Linked DNA regions of Homo sapiens: region 2 is linked to region 1. The links come from fine-mapping of genetic effects on gene expression. A gene starts in region 1. The other region holds a variant in brackets. All regions are shown on one strand. Distances are between the middles of the regions.

The links. PIP is the estimated chance that this variant, and not a neighbour inherited with it, causes the effect.
Region 2: its variant is fine-mapped to the expression of PRANCR in testis (GTEx, PIP above 0.99).

Annotation. Positions count from the first base shown.
Region 1 is chr12:70,239,095-70,247,434 of GRCh38, reverse strand. PRANCR (progenitor renewal associated non-coding RNA) reads left to right here and starts at 4,075. Exons shown (of 5, transcript NR_120460.1): 1 at 4,075-4,123; 2 at 4,542-4,611; 3 at 5,206-5,254. CNOT2 (CCR4-NOT transcription complex subunit 2) reads right to left here and starts at 4,002. Exons shown (of 16, transcript NM_014515.7): 1 at 3,955-4,002. RefSeq lists enhancers at 3,273-3,412, 4,143-4,342, 3,517-4,716 and silencers at 3,713-3,972, 4,044-4,583.
Region 2 is chr12:70,045,313-70,053,652 of GRCh38, reverse strand. No RefSeq gene overlaps it. Among named protein-coding and RNA genes, the nearest start is that of LINC02821, 130 kb to the left of the region's middle. The variant G/A (reference allele first, on the strand shown) is at 3,949.

The DNA of each region.
Region 1 (8,340 bases):
CCTGTAATCCCAGCACTTTGGGAGGGTGAGGCAGGCGGATCGTCTGAGGTCAGGAGTTTGAGACATGCCTGACCAACATGGTGAAACCCTGTCTCTACTGAAAATACAAAATTAGCTGGGTGCATGCCTGTAATCCCAGCTACTCAGGAGGCTGAGGCAGGAGAACCGCTTGAACCCGGGAGGCGGAGGTGGTAGCGAGCCAAGATCACGCCATTGCACTCCAGCCTCAGCGACGAGCAAAACTTCGTCTCAAAGAAAAAAAAAAAAGAATAAGGAAAAGAAAATGTGCAGGGTTAAGTGGCAAATAGTCCAAAATATCTAACTATATATCTAAGTGGACTTAGATCCTGAGTCTACGCATATACAAAACCCTGAAGTGCCCAGAAAAGGAAAAATTTCCCATTTTTTCCTAAATAATTCACTTTTTTGTATTTCCATATTATATGTCATAAGCTCTTGACAAAAAGCAAACATTGTAAACTGTTTTATTACTTTATAATGCAGCACACCCCCAAGGGATATACCAACAGATACCAACAGATTTGCATCTGTATTTCAGAGAACAAGCTCTCAGAAAACACAGTACAAATTCTATTTCCAGGACATTCCTAATAGTATAGACAAAGAAAATAAATGAACAAACCACATCAGCATGATTAGTCATAAGAGTTGAATTCTAAAATAGAAATCAAAGGATGTCAAACAGAAAAACCAAAGAAATAAAAACCTAACTTTCATTCCACTTCAAGGCAAACTTTCTACAATGACATCAACTTTAGCACAGCTCTTTTCAAAATATCTGATATAAGTCACAGTGAAATTCAATCCCTTTAAGTATCACAGGTAGAAACTGCTCTTAGTAAGGAAGAACAGTCACCTGTATCATCAAGCAGAATAAGTTCTACCATAGCACTAGATCTCTTGATTAACACTGTATGTAATTCCACTCAAACATTACAGTACACCTCATATTAACTCTGCCCCTAAACTGCCCTACCTGGTACCCTGGATATTCTGCCTCTTTGTGTTACAAAATCCACTACAGATCCAGGTAACAAATAACATCATAAATGTTTGGTGGTATATTTTCCTGAAATCTCAGGAAAATAACCTGTCCTCAAATGCCTATTCAAGCAAGCACATGGCATTGTTAGTTTGCCTTCAAATATGTGATCCCAACAGAATGAACTTTCTACAGTTACAAATTTTAACAACAAAAAAAAGCTATTATTTACCACTGCTTTTAAAGAGCAAGAAAATAAATTGTAAGCTAAGTTCTTTTCATTGGTCTATTAATGCTTACTCATTATTTCATATATACATGTGAAGCATACATTTTATTCATATTATCAGAAAATCTTATGAAGTAAGTCTGTCACTAGAAAAGATAAAACTATAACTTATACAGGTTGTAAAAAATTCTGTAATGGTCTTTCAAAATACAGGTACTTTTAACACCAGTATCTACTAAAGGAATACAAATGAGAACTGGGTTAGAATCACTTCTAATAAAATCTATTCATACACCTGAAAATTTTATTTACTTTTGAACAAATAATTTTCAGATTACAATAACTGTAAAGCATCTCTGAAAAATCAAAAAGTGCAACATCCAAAGTTATAAAGCAAAAACAAAGGTAATTAGTTCTTGTAGGGAGGTATATGGGAAGTTGTATCATTCTGAATTTTTTTGTTTTTGTTTTTTGCCCAGCATCAGAAGATAAGCCACAATCTGAGTTTTATCTTCAAGAGCAGGTACTTGGGGATATAAATCACTCATACACAAGCATTTTGCCCTCATTTTTCCACCATGTAAATTAAAGTATTATAGAAATTGAAAAATTGTATAGGCTGTATTTGTTGCTTGGTTAAACAGGCAATTCTCATTCCCTGAGATCAGATTAGGTTACAGATATCTCTACATTGTATACTTAGAAAAAGATTCCTGCCAACAAATGTTTACATTAACTTATTTGTATTGATAAAGCACTAATCAAGATGCAAAAAAAACTTCAGCAGTTTCTCACTTCCTCTCTAAAATACAAAGTATTCACAAAAATTATTACAATTCAAGCTCTCAGAAAATATGAGAGAAAAGTACCTTTTTTACAGTAAGGATCTTACAAAGTCAAGAAATAAGTGAGTAGAGTGGAACATGTTTTGTCTTTAAGTGTATTTTGTATTTTTTTCTTTAGATTTAACATTATAATAGAACTACAAACTAAACAAATTCAACATACAGAGCTTACTAATTATCTTGGTCCATTATAAAACATTTCAATGAACTGGGATGTGAATATAGACACTTAACCATTTCAGCCAACTATGATTCTTAACCCTTTCAATCTGCAATAGTTACCTTACAAAATTGTGAGATTTATTCATTGACGTTTGGAAAGAACTGTTGTCAATTATGCCAAGCATTCCCAAACTCAACATCAACCTTGCATGTAAATGGATACTTTAAAATTTCTATCTCATCCCTCACCCCATACTTTATTCTTTCCATTTATATTGCTTCAAAAGGGAAATCAACAGTCACACTTATGATTCCGAGCTCTAAAAATTCCTAATATTAAGCATGACACTAAATATGTTCAACTTTGAACCTTAAATTCAAGTTGGCCTCCCTCGTGAACTGATTTTAACTGAGTACTTTTTACCATTTCGCCAAGAACTAAGGGTTCAAAGCAGTGTACTTAATTATGAGGAATTGCCCAAACGATTTTAAAAGGAGTGGGATTCTCTGACCAAGACTTTTATGAAAATGAAACAAAATATGTTGCACTCAGTCTTCCGGATGTTGAAAAGTGAAGATGTCTCCAAGGATTCGAAGGAAGTTGATGTTTAGGTTCCCTCTGAGAGGGTGGTACCCTTAATGTAAGACTTTTGTGGTAGTAATACCGTACCTACAGGCCTGGAATAAATATAAGGTCTAAAACCTTGGAAATACTTTGTATAAAAGAAAACTCCAATTCTCTTTTGCTAAGGACCACAGTTACCAAGAGTTATCAGCTTTCACCCGGACAGACAACAGTGCTTCAATGAAGAACTACAAAGGCCTCTTTTAACCCTACTCTTTTCTTCTGTTAAACTTTTAAGCGAGACCTACGACAGCAAAAGGTGGAGAGGCCCCTGCGGAAGTAGAAACCCAGGACTTGCAACTTCACAGACAGAAGCGTCTGTGGTTCCTCCGCCGCCCCAGGATCATCCGGACTCAGTCTACGACACTACGGAAGCTTCACCTTCCTGGTGCGGTGGCAGAGGCGGCATCGCAGTTGCATTCCTTCTCCCTCCACCATGCACAGCCTTCGGTATCCCAGGGCCTGCAGGATCCTGACACCCGTTAGCCAGTCCAGTGTCTCCCATCTGACACTTGCAAACACACTAACAGAAATACACATAACTGGCAGATGATATACGTGTATTGAGAGAAGGTAAGAAGCCACAGACAGCACCAGCTGCCGGGAAGGCGGCAGAGCCGTCTAAAGCGGGCTCGAGCTCGTCGGCCACGGCCACGGCCGCTGCCGCCTTCTCTTCTCCCCCAGGAAGCAGCGCGGCGGCAGCGGCTCCTCCGCGCTGGCGGGAGCCTAGGGGAGTGGAGTCTGGGGAAGCCCCACCACTCGCGGATGGGACCGGGCCTAGGATCTGGAGCTGCTGCTGCTGCAGCGGCCCGAGTACAGCGACGCTTTACGTCCGGTCCACCACCACCCCCATACACACCCCCTCCCTCCCTCCACCGCCGCCACCCCCCTCCCCGCCCGCTCCGCTCTCCGTCTCTCGATTGGAGCCGAGACAAAAGCAACGGGAAGCGGTGGGCCGGGACGCTACCGGCGGACCCTGGGCGCGACCGGACCGGCCCCGGGGCATTCCCCCGCCTTGCGGGGGCCCCGAATCTGCCGCCCCCGCCGCGCGCCCCGCTGCCAGACTTCCGAAAATTTACCAAAAACTCACCGCATGAATTTTCTTGTCCCGCGGATCCAAGATGGCGACGTATCCACCGCGGAGGCTGCTGGGAGCAAGACCTTTACCCTCTGACCGCCGCCGTGACCCCCGTCGCTCCGGCTTCCCTCCAGGCGGCAGCGGAAGGTGGGAGCGACGACTGCAAAACGGCAGCGATGGGGTGGGTAGGCAGGCCGCTTTCAGCGCGCTTCTAACAAGGTGGAGAGAGGCGCTTCACTTCCCTACCGCCCTTACCGCCGCTCCGTCTTGTCTCCCACCGACTCACAGGGAGGCTTGCTGCTCCTCCGCGGCCGTTACAGAGAGCGGGGCTTCTGCGGCCGCTACCGTTTCCCTGGGGCTAGGTTGCTTCGCAGAAGGCTCTGGCCCTGAGTCCGAGGGGGACTGCGGGGTCCAGGGGCGATGAATGGTGAGGTGGCTTCAGTCCGCCCTCCCCGGGGACGCTGAGCGTGTTCGTGTTCGTGTTTGTGTTTGTGTTTGTGTTGGACACCCCCGCCCCCGCACGTCCGCCTCGTCACTCCTCCCCTCCTCACTCCCGCCACCTGGAGCGAATCTGATCGTGTCCCTGTTTCCTCCCTCAGCTCCCGCAACCTCCGGAGCTTGTGCGCGTACTTCAGGGACCGGCACCACGTCACCGTCACCTCCTGAGTAGTGAGTTCCCCTCTGATGAAACCACTGGTGTGTTTACTCACCATCCCCACCATTTTTTTTTCCCCAACCTGATGGAAGGAAGTACATAATGGAGAGCAAGTTTTTAAAGCACGGTCGTGTCGTGTGAACTTGCTCTAGCCAAATTAGGTTTATAGCACTTTTTTTGGCTCTCATTACCTCCAGTCCCCACATAAACAAGAGTGACCAGCTGGGTCATCCGCAAGACCGTTTGAAATTATTGTGGCTTGGGTGGAAACTTAAAGGAGTGAAGTATCTGCTTTCCAGAAAAATCGTTGTCATTCAAAGTGAAATTAAACTTGTTTTCTTTGCAATAATTCGCCTTTATTTCCTTGTATATCTGTAAACTCTTCACTTTTTTGTAATTACTAGACAATTCGGACTTAAAAAGAGCCTCAGCATGTGTATTTTGGAATTGTGTAGCTTCATAATGTGAAAATTATTCTTTTCTATTTGAGTAAAGTACAGTTAATTTGAAGTAAATAAAATTTCTATTTCCATTGGTTGTTTCTTTTAAAAAGTCACCTTTTACTTACAAAAGAATCACTGTAATCCAGTTTACATTTATCATTGAAGGTCAAAAGCAAGAAATAGGAAGAAACACAAGCATACTATAAAATAAAAGGTAACTGTCATGTTTTTGAAGGTAAGGTGTTTTGACATATCAGCAGACATTGTGTGAATTTATTTCAACTCCTAGTGGTACTGGTGTAGGTAGAAAATGTTTTGCTTGGTTATTCATTTCATCAAACACTCTACTTCACTGTTTTTTTTTCACTTCAGGAAAATTCGAGGAGGAACAACACATACTAGTGTCTTTCCTTTCTTTCTCCCCGTCTTCTGCAAATAGTCCCTTCCTCTTCCTGCTTTCTCCTCCTTCTCATGTTAACATCTTCAACCATAAGATGGTGTGTTAAAAGATTGAATATACCTCTATGGAATGACTTCCAGAGGGTGTAAGTCTGATATGAGAGTTTTATTACCTTGAGTATTTTACTGGAAGAGATAGAACAACAAACATTTTCATAATAAATGTGTGGGTTAGGAGTGTTAGGAGAAAATACACTGATACTATTACTTTCAATATTTGATACTACTTACTTTGACTCTCACTGAACACCTATTTGTTTAGGATGAATTCACTTTAAGCCGGGTTGAAGAACAAGCCTTTAATTGTCCTATTATTTGTGCCAAATCTATTATAAATTTGTTAAAAAATTTTTAATACCTACCTTAGAGGGTACTCTAGGTATTTAATGAGCTAGCATTTGTTAAAGGCTTGTATAGTAAGAATTCTTATAGTAAGAGTTCTTACCAATAGATGGTATATTTTTTAAATTGTCCTGTTGCATCAAAAAGTTCATCTTTATTGGTAATGTTGATTAAGTTTGCCCATTTGGTAGTTTGGTTTCTTTTAACTATCTTACTAGATTTTCTTACTTTTACCTGAAAAGTAGTCCTTACTAATAGGCACATGTTTTGTATATTTCCAAAATATGTATTATGTTAAATTCTCTGTACACTTTATTTAAAAATTACAGACGTTGAGGGAAAAAAAATACCCTATTAAGGGAAGAATGAGTTTGTGTATAACTTGTAGAAGAAGGAGGCCACCCATTTTTAGAAAAATATGGATGGTATTGAAAATTTTGCCATGGCAAGGGATAAAAAGGACAGGCTTCTCTAATGTGTCTGAAACAACATTTGAATCCCCTTTGTTCATTCCCTAAATCTGCTGCTCCTTTAGAATTCCTGATTTTCATAAATAGTACCACCATTCACTTATTTGCTCAGGCATAAAACTTGGAATTTTCTGATTCTTCACACTCATACAACTCATCAGACAGTACCATCAGTTCTTCCTGACAAATACATTCTGAATTTAGCTACTTATCACTTCCACTGGTACAACCCTTGGGAGCCACCATCATCTGTTGCTGGACCACAGCAATAACCACACTAGTTGCTATCACTTTCTATCTGTACCCTCATGAATATTTTCCCATTTAAACCATTCTCTATATACCAACCAAAGCAATCACTTAAAAAATGTTATTAGGTTATGTCACTCCCTTGTTTAAAACCCTCCAATAGCTTCCTTATGCACACAGAATGAAATCGGAATTCCTTACCATAGCCTTCAAGACTGCATAATCTGGCTCCTGCCCACTTCTCCATCTTCCCAGGAAGCAGCACAGGAAGTTGTTCTCACCCTTCTTACTGCCTCCTTTCTGTCGTGGGCTGTGCTTTTTCTAGTCTGTAGCAGAGTCTGTTAGTTGTCCCCAAAAATTCCTCCATTTTTTTCATAGTAATAGACATGGATACATGGCTACCCAGAACAAAGACTATATTTTGCAGCCTTCCTTGTAGCCATGTAATAGTGCTGGCTGATGGGATGTAAGCAGTATATCATGTGGCACACTTGTAAAACCATCCTTAAAAGATAGTTGGTGCACACCTTCAATGCGGCTTTTCCTTTATCCTGTACCGTGGAATATAGATGTGATGGCTTAGAACTGTAGCTGCCAATTTGTGCCTCATGCAAGTTCTCTCATTCTAGGGATGGCAAAACTAAACTGGTGGAAACCAGGGTCTGTGAGAACTTTATGGATCAGAGCACCATGCTAGCCCTGCAGTCGTAAATGTCTATATTATTAAAGCCACTATTTTGGAGTCTCTTGTTCTCAACTGAATTTAATCTTACCTGATACTCTGTCTCAGGGCCTTTGCACTTGCTTTTTATTTTTTATTTATTTATTTTTTTTCTGCCTGGGATGTGGTCTTCTGTCTTGGATATGGCTGACTCATTCTCTTCCTTCAGGTTAACCCAAATATCTCTGACAGGCCTTCCCTGGCCACCGTATCTAAAATAGCTCACGTTCCCATTTATTCTCTGTCAATCACGTGCCCCTCTATTTTCTTAATAGCATTTATAATTTATCATTATCTTGTTTATTCACTGTTTATTTTCTACCTCCCTTCACCCTACAAAAATATAAACTACACCTGTTTTTTTCCACTACTTTATCCTTCACACATGGTAGGCATTAGATAAATGCTGTTAAATTAGTGAGTGAATGAATCAACAAAATTCTTATCCAAGATTAGCTAGACTTTTTAAATAATAAATGAGTAAATGTCAACAGATATCCTTAACACAAAATTTGTAAAATCCAATCTAGGAAACAGGAAAAACAGTACTAAACTAATAGGATATTCCTGACCTCCAACTTAATAAAGAAGATGTCTACCTTTTTCTGGGAAATCTGTAAGGCTAGTACAAGTTAAAAAAAAAAAGACTGCACTGCAGTATATCCAGGGCTAAAATTCACACTAAAAGGGGTCTGAATTATAATTTACTAGACCTCAGTTTCTTCATCTTAAATATGTGTAAGCTTTGAATGGTAATACTATAACAGTTAAAAGTTTAATAGTAAGCCCAACTTATGAGTGACAAAACATGTTAAACATTAATTTAGTCTTCAGGCACTATTTTAACAAGTGGTTATTTCTTGATAATACTGGCAAGGATTCAGAGAAACAGGGCTGCTTATATTGCTGAGAGTGTATGTTGGCAGCACTTTTCTAGAGTGCAGTTTGGCAATATGTATCAAAAGCCTTGAGCCATGTGCATTTGACCCAGCGATTCTTTTAGAAATGTGTCATAAGCAGGCTGGGTGCAGTGGCTCATGCCTGTAATCCCAGCACTTT
Region 2 (8,340 bases), 190 kb after region 1:
TGAAGAGAAACTGAAAGGCTACTCCCTTCCGACGTGAGGAATTTAGAGAATACTAAGAAAGAGAGAGAGGTAGAAATCAAGGAGGTGAGAGGCCAGGGTCCCTGTCCTGTCCTCGTTCAATGACAGGCTCTGAGAAGAGGTTAGGGATTGCTTTTAAAATTACCCAAATGGGAAAAGGAGGACAAGAGCACTGGGAATAGTGCCATACATCCTTTGAACAGAGGAAGACTTTGTCTTCCAAAGAAGAGTGTTTGGAAACAGCCTTCAAAGTTAGCTCCTCACAATGTGTAGGGATGGTATGAAGGCAGTGGCAGAAGACAGGTGAATTGATGAGTTTTGTGAGTTGGCTTTTTGAGACAGAGTTTGGGTGTAATACCTGTGAAAAAAAGAGGGAGGAAGCAGGACTGGTCAAGGGGCGAAGTTGAACTGTGATGCAATCCAACAAAGCCTCAGCTAACCCGAAGAGAAATTCTGGAGTAAGAATGACTCATCGGTATTGTGTTGCAATCTGCTGAATTGGCAAAGCCTTTCTACCCCACCTTACTCAGTTACCAGATAAGGGTTGCCCTGCCATTGTTCCAGCCACTGTACATCTGAAGCCATGAGGTCAGAGCCCTACATAGATTTGGGGACACCCATCTTGACGCATAAACCCTGCCTATACTACTCCCCAACCCTAGACATCATCTTGGAGAGAAGCAAAAAAAGAGCACTGAAACATTTAGCATTTACGTGAGTTACTGTCCAGAGATTGAACTCCCTAAATAGACTTTAAATGATTGGACCAGACCAAGGTTCCACACTTAGCCTAAAACTTGGTTTTTAGTTTTCTGTTATCCAGCAGGCTAAGGAAATATCAGGGAGAGAACATCAATTAAGAGGTACTCAAGGAAACTACATCTGCTTTGCACATTTGTATAGAGTACGAGGGACATTTTGCACTTGCTACATTACCAAAGAGAAACACATACCAAAAGTTAATTTAACAAGAATTCCAGACTCAGAGGACAAAAATGAGATTGAAGGAGGGCTCAATATTCTGTTTCCTGAGAATATTCATTAAGCAATTGCTAGGTTTTGTTGCTGAACAGTGTAATTTTTCATTCTAGTTAATTTCCTTTGAGAAGTTCTGAAATACTAGGACCTTACTTGTTCTCACTGGCCATAGAATTACATGTTAAGCAAAGCCCAAGATTTAGTAACGTACAAATCATTCTGGCTTCCCGCTACTGTGAGAAACTACACTCAGCAAAAAAATAAAATAAAAATAAAAAATGGTTATAGTTTATCTAGTTCCCTGTGAATAATACAAACACCAAAGTCTCTGGCAGTCAGAGATAGAAGAAAATTAAATTCACGTAAAACTCTTCATCAGCTTAGTTTGGCTAGATATGAAATTCTGGGTTGAAAATTCTTTTCTTTAAGAATGTTGAATATTGGCCCCCACTCTCTTCTGGCTTGGAGAGTTTCTGCCGAGAGATTAGCTGTTAGTCTGATGGGCTTCCCTTTGTGGGTAACCCGACCTTTCTCTCTGGCTGCCCTTAACATTTTCTCCTTCATTTCAACTTCGGTGAATCTGACAATTATGTATCTTGGAGTTGCTCTTCTCGAGGAGTATCTTTGTGGCGTTCTCTGTGCTTCCTGAATTTGAATGTTGGCCTTCCTTTCTAGGTTGGGGAAGTTCTCCTGGATAATATCCTGCAGAGTGTTTTCCAACTTGGTTCCATTCTCCCCAGTTGGTACACATCTGGTGTACATCTGGTACACCAATCAGATGTAGATTTGGTCTTTTCACATAGTCCCATATTTCTTGGAGGCTTTGTTAGTTTCTTTTTATTCTTTTTTCTCTAAACTTCTCTTCTCGCTTCATTTCATTCATTTGATCTTCAATCACTGATACCCTTTCTTCCAGCTGATCGAATCAGCTACTGAAACTTGTAGGGACATGGATGAAGCCGGAAACCATCATTCTCAGCAAACTATCACAAGGACAAAAAACCAAACACCGCATGTTCTCACTCATAGGTGGGAATTGAACAATGAGAGCACTTGGGCACAGGAAGGGGAACATCACACACCGGGGCCTGTTGTGGGGTGGGGGGAGGGGGGAGGGATAGCATTAGGAGATATACCTAATGTAAATGATGAATTAATGGGTGCAGCACACCAACATGGCACATGTATACATATGTAACAAACCTGCACCTTGTGCACATGTACCCTAGAACTTAAAGTATAATAAAAAATATATATATAAAAAATAATAAAAAACTCTTCATCAGCAAGTAAAAACCAAAAGCAACACAATTGTAACTGTGAGATCAAAGAATAGTGAGATGTGAGAGGCAGGCCATCTACTGTCAGCAGCCCCAGACTCCCCTCAGAATCGACGGACAGAACTTCAGATGAGAGAATCCTGAACTGCCCTGGGCTTTGCCAGCCCTTTGAGAGGGAAGTGACAGATGACAAAGTCAAAGCCTGGGAGAACTGAGAACCTAATTCAGTTTAAACTTACCCAGGCCCTTCTCTCTATTTAAAAGGATCGTGTTCACCATGGCCACAAAAGTCTAACTCTGGAATAAGTTGTAGCTCCATTTCTGAAACAAATTTTTTTGACAATAGAATGGAACTTAGAGGATTCATTATGCAATATTATCATATGTGCTCACAGGTATGCCAACATACGTTTCCAAGCTGCTTAAATTGTCTGCCAATGAGCCCCCCTTTTTCATCCCCCAGGGCTTCATCAAGTTGCACATATGATTGATTTTATAATAATAATAATAACATTTAATGAGCATTTGTTACATGTCAGGCACTGTACTAAGTGATCTTCAGTCTTCTTTTAATCCCTTCTTTCATGAAACAAGCATCATTATTATGTTATCTTGAAGAATGTGAGGGTCAGAGAGCTTAAGCAAATTTCCCAAAGTCACACATTTAGGATATAACTGAGTGAAAACTCAGAAAGGATTCCCAAGTGAGGAAAAACTCCCAAAGATGGCAAAACTGGCCTAATTTTGTTTATAGAATTATGTGGTATTGCCTTAGCTTGGGTTACCCAGAAAACAGAGCCTGAGACAATGAGCTTATGGTATAATACTTCTACTCTATTAGGAGATGCATTTCCAGGTATGAGAAAACAACGGGAGAGAAGGAGGAAAGGGGAAGCCAATATGAGACCACATGATCAAGTGTGAAGCTACTGAGACTTACTGAAAAAAATCACAGGATCGTCCAGCAAGAAGTCACATAAACTGCATCTCAAAAAAGTCCATCTAGAGGGAGAAAAGGGGAAGAACTTATGTACCAGCTGACTTTTTAAAATCAAAAGTTTACCTCATGGGATACTAACTCCCTGCCCTTCAGGGTTTCACATGTGTAGGCCATAAGCAGCATCTGTGGCTTCCATATCTTAGCACTAACACCTCCCTAGGGTGGGAGGTGAGAGGCGTATGGTGCAGCTTGGGGTGAGATATACGTATGTAAAGCCACTGGGAGCCAATATAGAACTGATGGTGTTAGTGGTATCGAAACAGGAAATGGGTGAGGCTGAGGCCTCAGAGGTGTCAGACATGAGTCCTTCTTTTCTGCAGGACAGAAAGGAGCCACACAGTTCTAGCATGTTACAAGTAGTTGGGATGCCTATTAAAGGCTAAGATGCAGCAGCTTAGCTTGCAGTCCTACATAGGCACTGAAGTAAGTTCTCATGCCCTAGTCCAGAAAGCAGAGTCTTCAGGCACTTTGGACAAGCAGCAATTACAAAGCACAAAAAGGGGAGAAATATGAAAATGTTCACTTAGTCATTCATTCTTCCAAGAAAGTCAACCAGCAGGTTCAACCAGTTCTTAGAGGTTCCCAGGAAATACACCTTCTTTCCTGGAGCAGGAGTTGTAACCTCCTCCGGTGTGGTTTCATCTGGGTAAAGATCATTGAACTGCATACAAT[G/A]GCACAGAGTGCCATTGCATAGAGTCTGATAGAGCATCTTGCTCCTATGCAATGGCATCAGAAAGCAAAATCCCCTTTGTTTTGCATTCACGAAATAGTTTAGAATTAAAATACAGTTAAAATTAAAATTCAGGGCTTCAGTTAAAATTAGTAATAAAAGCCCTTGGTGGGTACTCACCATAGGCCTGCAAATAATCCCTGTCATTCTAAAGAAAGTGGACTCTGATAAGGAAGGTACTTCTGATTGCTAGAGCCTAGGCCATCTGACTATATCCTAGCTGCAAAGGCAGCTGGAAAATTAGCTGTCATTTTCAACTAATATAGTGGGTGTCAATCTCTGCCTCATAAAGTCGAAAAATTACCCAAACATAGGAAGAGGGTTCAGATTCTAGGTGGTCAAAAAGAATGTCAGATGTCCATTTTTGACCCCACATCCTTTCGTGCTAACTAGTTTATTGCCTGATACCAATGTTTTTCTTGTAGTGAGGCCCCTGATATCTACTGCTAGATTTCCTTGACAGCAAGGTCAAAAGAACAGTCATGCCAGATATAACCTCGGAGGTCTACCCAACACACCTTGCCTGGCCTTTCTTGGTTTGTTTTGTTCAACAGTTGCCCAAGCCCAGAATCTGGTACTCTGCATGACAAATCAGCAAATAAACCTGCCACCTGGAATCTGAGCTTTGGAACTACTACTATAAACAGCCATATACACATCATAACCCAAAGCCCCATAGAGTGTAATGCTGACTTTATTATAATGTGGGACACATGGATTATACCCCTTGCTCTCACATTAAACTGCTGTATGGCTTTGTGGAAGTGACTTAGCCACTTTGTATTTGGTTTCCTATTTTGTAAAAAAAAAAAAATTTTTTTTAAAGAAAGAAGAAAAAAGCCATTGCATTCAGCACAGGGGAAAGAAACCACTAATGCACAGAATGCTAATAATGTACAAGGAGGTTTACTTTCAGTTGTTGCAGCAAACCTGCAAGACAGGTGCTCTATCCTCATCTTGCTGATGAAGGAACTGAGACAGAGGGGTCATGTTTTCCCAAAAGTCATAGAGTTAACAAGCTGCTGAGGCCAGGGTTTGAGCCAGTTTCAGCCAGCCTCAAAGCCCTTGCTCTTTCCATGTTTCTTTTTTGAAAACAAATGTTGAATTACACAAACAGCAAGAGTATATTATCTGTAAAAAATTTAAATGTTTCTGAAAGGCTAATGTCTCCTTGGAATACTACCCCCTTGCCCCAACAAACTTTCTCAAGTGACAATAAATAGCCACTTATAATTTTAGTGTATATACTTCAAGTTTTTCTATGTGTTTATATACATGTAACCTAGAAAGCATATATAAGCACATATAGAAGTAATATAATGTTACTTATACAAGTGTGTATATTTTTGTATGAAAATAATGTCATTTTGAAGATATCTTTATGCAGCCTGCTTTTCATTTGACAATAGGTTTTGGAGCTCTAGCTATGTCAGTACACAGCGAGCAATCTCATTCCTTTTAGCTGGTGCATAGTATTTCGTAGCATAGAAATATAAGTTTATTTAACTATTTCCCTCCTGATGGATACTCAATTTGTTTGCTCTTAGCACATATTTCTATTCCAACATTGTGCTTTTTCTCCAGCTTCCAGAGATTAGTTCTGTAACCTCTTTTAGCTCAAAAATTCTATGGCATGAAGGAAATGAAGCATGATTAAGTCTGAAGACATAATAATTCACTCTAGATAACTCATTTATTAAGCAGTGATATAGCACCAAATTGTGAAATATACACCACCATTAAAAACACAGTGCCAAATAAACAAAACAAAAAGATCCAAACAGGTTCAGGCAGACAAATGTCTCTCTGGTAACAAGATTCTAGTTTGTGTTCACTTAAGTATGTGACTCAAAGCTCTGTGTGGATATTCTTGATTACAGCAATTTGTTTTATAATAGTTGAGATTTAACATGGCATCATGCAATGTGCTGATGCTACATGTATTATTTAACCCTAATGATAATCCTTTAGAGCACATTATTACCTTTTGTATTGCTAAAGCAACTAGGGCTTAGAGAGGCCAAGAAATTTTGACCGAGATTACAAACTAGTGGCAAGACCAAGTTTCAAACTCAAGTTGTCTGACTCCAAAAGTCCCTCTTCTTTCCACTGTCTGTCATCAATCCTTTTAACCTGGGTTAGTGCAGAAGGACCTGATGATAAAGAACAAATTCTCACCTGATGCAAAACCTCTCAACATCTGCTCATTTTTTCAGTTCATTTTTCACTTCCTTCCCTGTCCTGAACCTGGCCCTAAATTACTTATAATTCACCAATAACACATTGCTGTGAACTTTTGCAAGCACTGTTTGCCTTTTCTGGAACATTATTCTATTGTCTGTCTGGGCAATCCAGACTTATCTTTCAGCGCAAGCATCATTTTCTCCAGAAAGCCTTTGCTGTACCATCCCCACCCTCACACCTGCCCAAAATTGGGTTAGGGATCCTCCATATTTTCCCATAGTGCTTTGTGTTACTTTCCCTAAAGCATTAAACATCACAAATTGTAAATATTTGTTACTTTCTTGTTTCCCTATACTACACAATGAGCTCCCTGAGAACAGGAGCCACAGCTTATCCGTAATGCATCTCTAGCCCTAGCATAGCGTCTAACACACAGTAGCCACTTGATAAATGTTTCATGAATAAATGAATCTTAGACTAATGGCAGAAATGAACCTGGAAGTAGACTCTTTAGCTCCATACGTGGTGATTGCTCAAGACAGTCACCTCAGTCGCCCCATTGCCAACCTGTTGCCCTCCAAACTCCTCACTTCCCACGATTGCAGGAGTTGTTCTCTGTATGATAACTTAAGAAGATTGTGGCACATGTGGGAAATTTTGGAGACAAAGTCTCTAAAGACAAAACAGTCACCGTTTATGTGGAGATTTATTTTATCTGTGAAAGATGGGGCATTTCTTTATCCCACATGAAGCAGGTAGGTTAAAATGCTAAGAAAGAAAAGGGAGCTGAATTTTACTGAGAAAAAAATAAACTGATGGTAGGAGAAAAATAATGAAGGTCTCCTATGAAATGACAAGGAAAATTTATCATTCAGTAGATTTAAAGAACAAAAATCAAAAGATCCAAACCAGAATGTGTGAAGCATAAAGAGATTTTGCAGATGATAAATTGCTCTACTGTACACATTTTTCTCTTTTCAGTTACAGATTATTTGATGAAAAGAATTCGTTTATTCCAAGTTTGCCAACATAGTTTTTGTTTTAACAGTTCAAGGAATGTATCAATTTTTCCCTAATGGTCTTTGAAGCCTCAAGATATGGAAATTTGGTATTCTAGGTAATGTCTAAAAAGTGTTCATGGAACTGAAACATTCAACTTGTGTTTACTAAATATTAGGAAGAAAACAACAGCATCAGAAAGAAATTAACATATATTTCAGAATGGGCTGACATCTCTCACTGATTATCCAATTATGGTACTATTATTAAAAATAAAAGATAGTAATAATTATAGTTACTATTTACTTAGTGCTAAGCACTCTTTATAGGCTAGGCACTGTGCTAGATTCTGACAATGCAGTAGAAAGCAAAACAGATATTCCTAGCCCCTGGATAGGTAGACATTAAACAGATAATTAGAAGATATGTATATAATTATAAAGGTTAGCAAGAAGAGAGGGTTTTAAAGAAAGAATAACAGAGGAGATCTATTTTACACAGGTAGTCAAGGAAGGTCTTTTTGAGGAAGTAATATTTAAACTGGGACTTGAAGAATGATAAGAGGTGAATAGTGGTGGGAAAAGAATTATAGAAAGAGGACATGGAATATATGAATATCCTGACATTGGAAAGAGCTTGGCATTTTCAAGGAACTGAAAGGAAGGCCTACTTATCAGATGTTTTCCTTTTGGCCCGCAGATCCTGTCCTGCCCGTCCCTGCTCCTGGTAGGCTGGTGTGATTGGGGCCTGACTCAACCTGCAGGAGTGAGGTGGCTTTGCTATGTTTGGCCAATAGAAAGGACTGGTAGGAGATCAGAAGGTGGGTAAAAGGAGGAAGCTAGAAGATTCCTCCCAGTTTTCATTCTGGGTAAGGAGCGCCTCTCCAGCAGTGGTGCTCTCTCCTCTGCGGCTTTAGAGATTTTTGGCTTTGGAGAGAACATAGTGCTAACCCCCTTCTTTATTTTGATCTTAGGATAATTGGCTGGGACAAGATCCTTATTGTTTAATGACACCTCTGTGTATCACAGGGGTGTGATTGTGGTTACAATTCACCTGGTCTATTCTTTTCTAAAGGATCATAAATTGATAAGAAACAGAGAAGCTAACAAAACACTCACACATAAAAGCCCCATCCTTTTATTTTCTCCCTA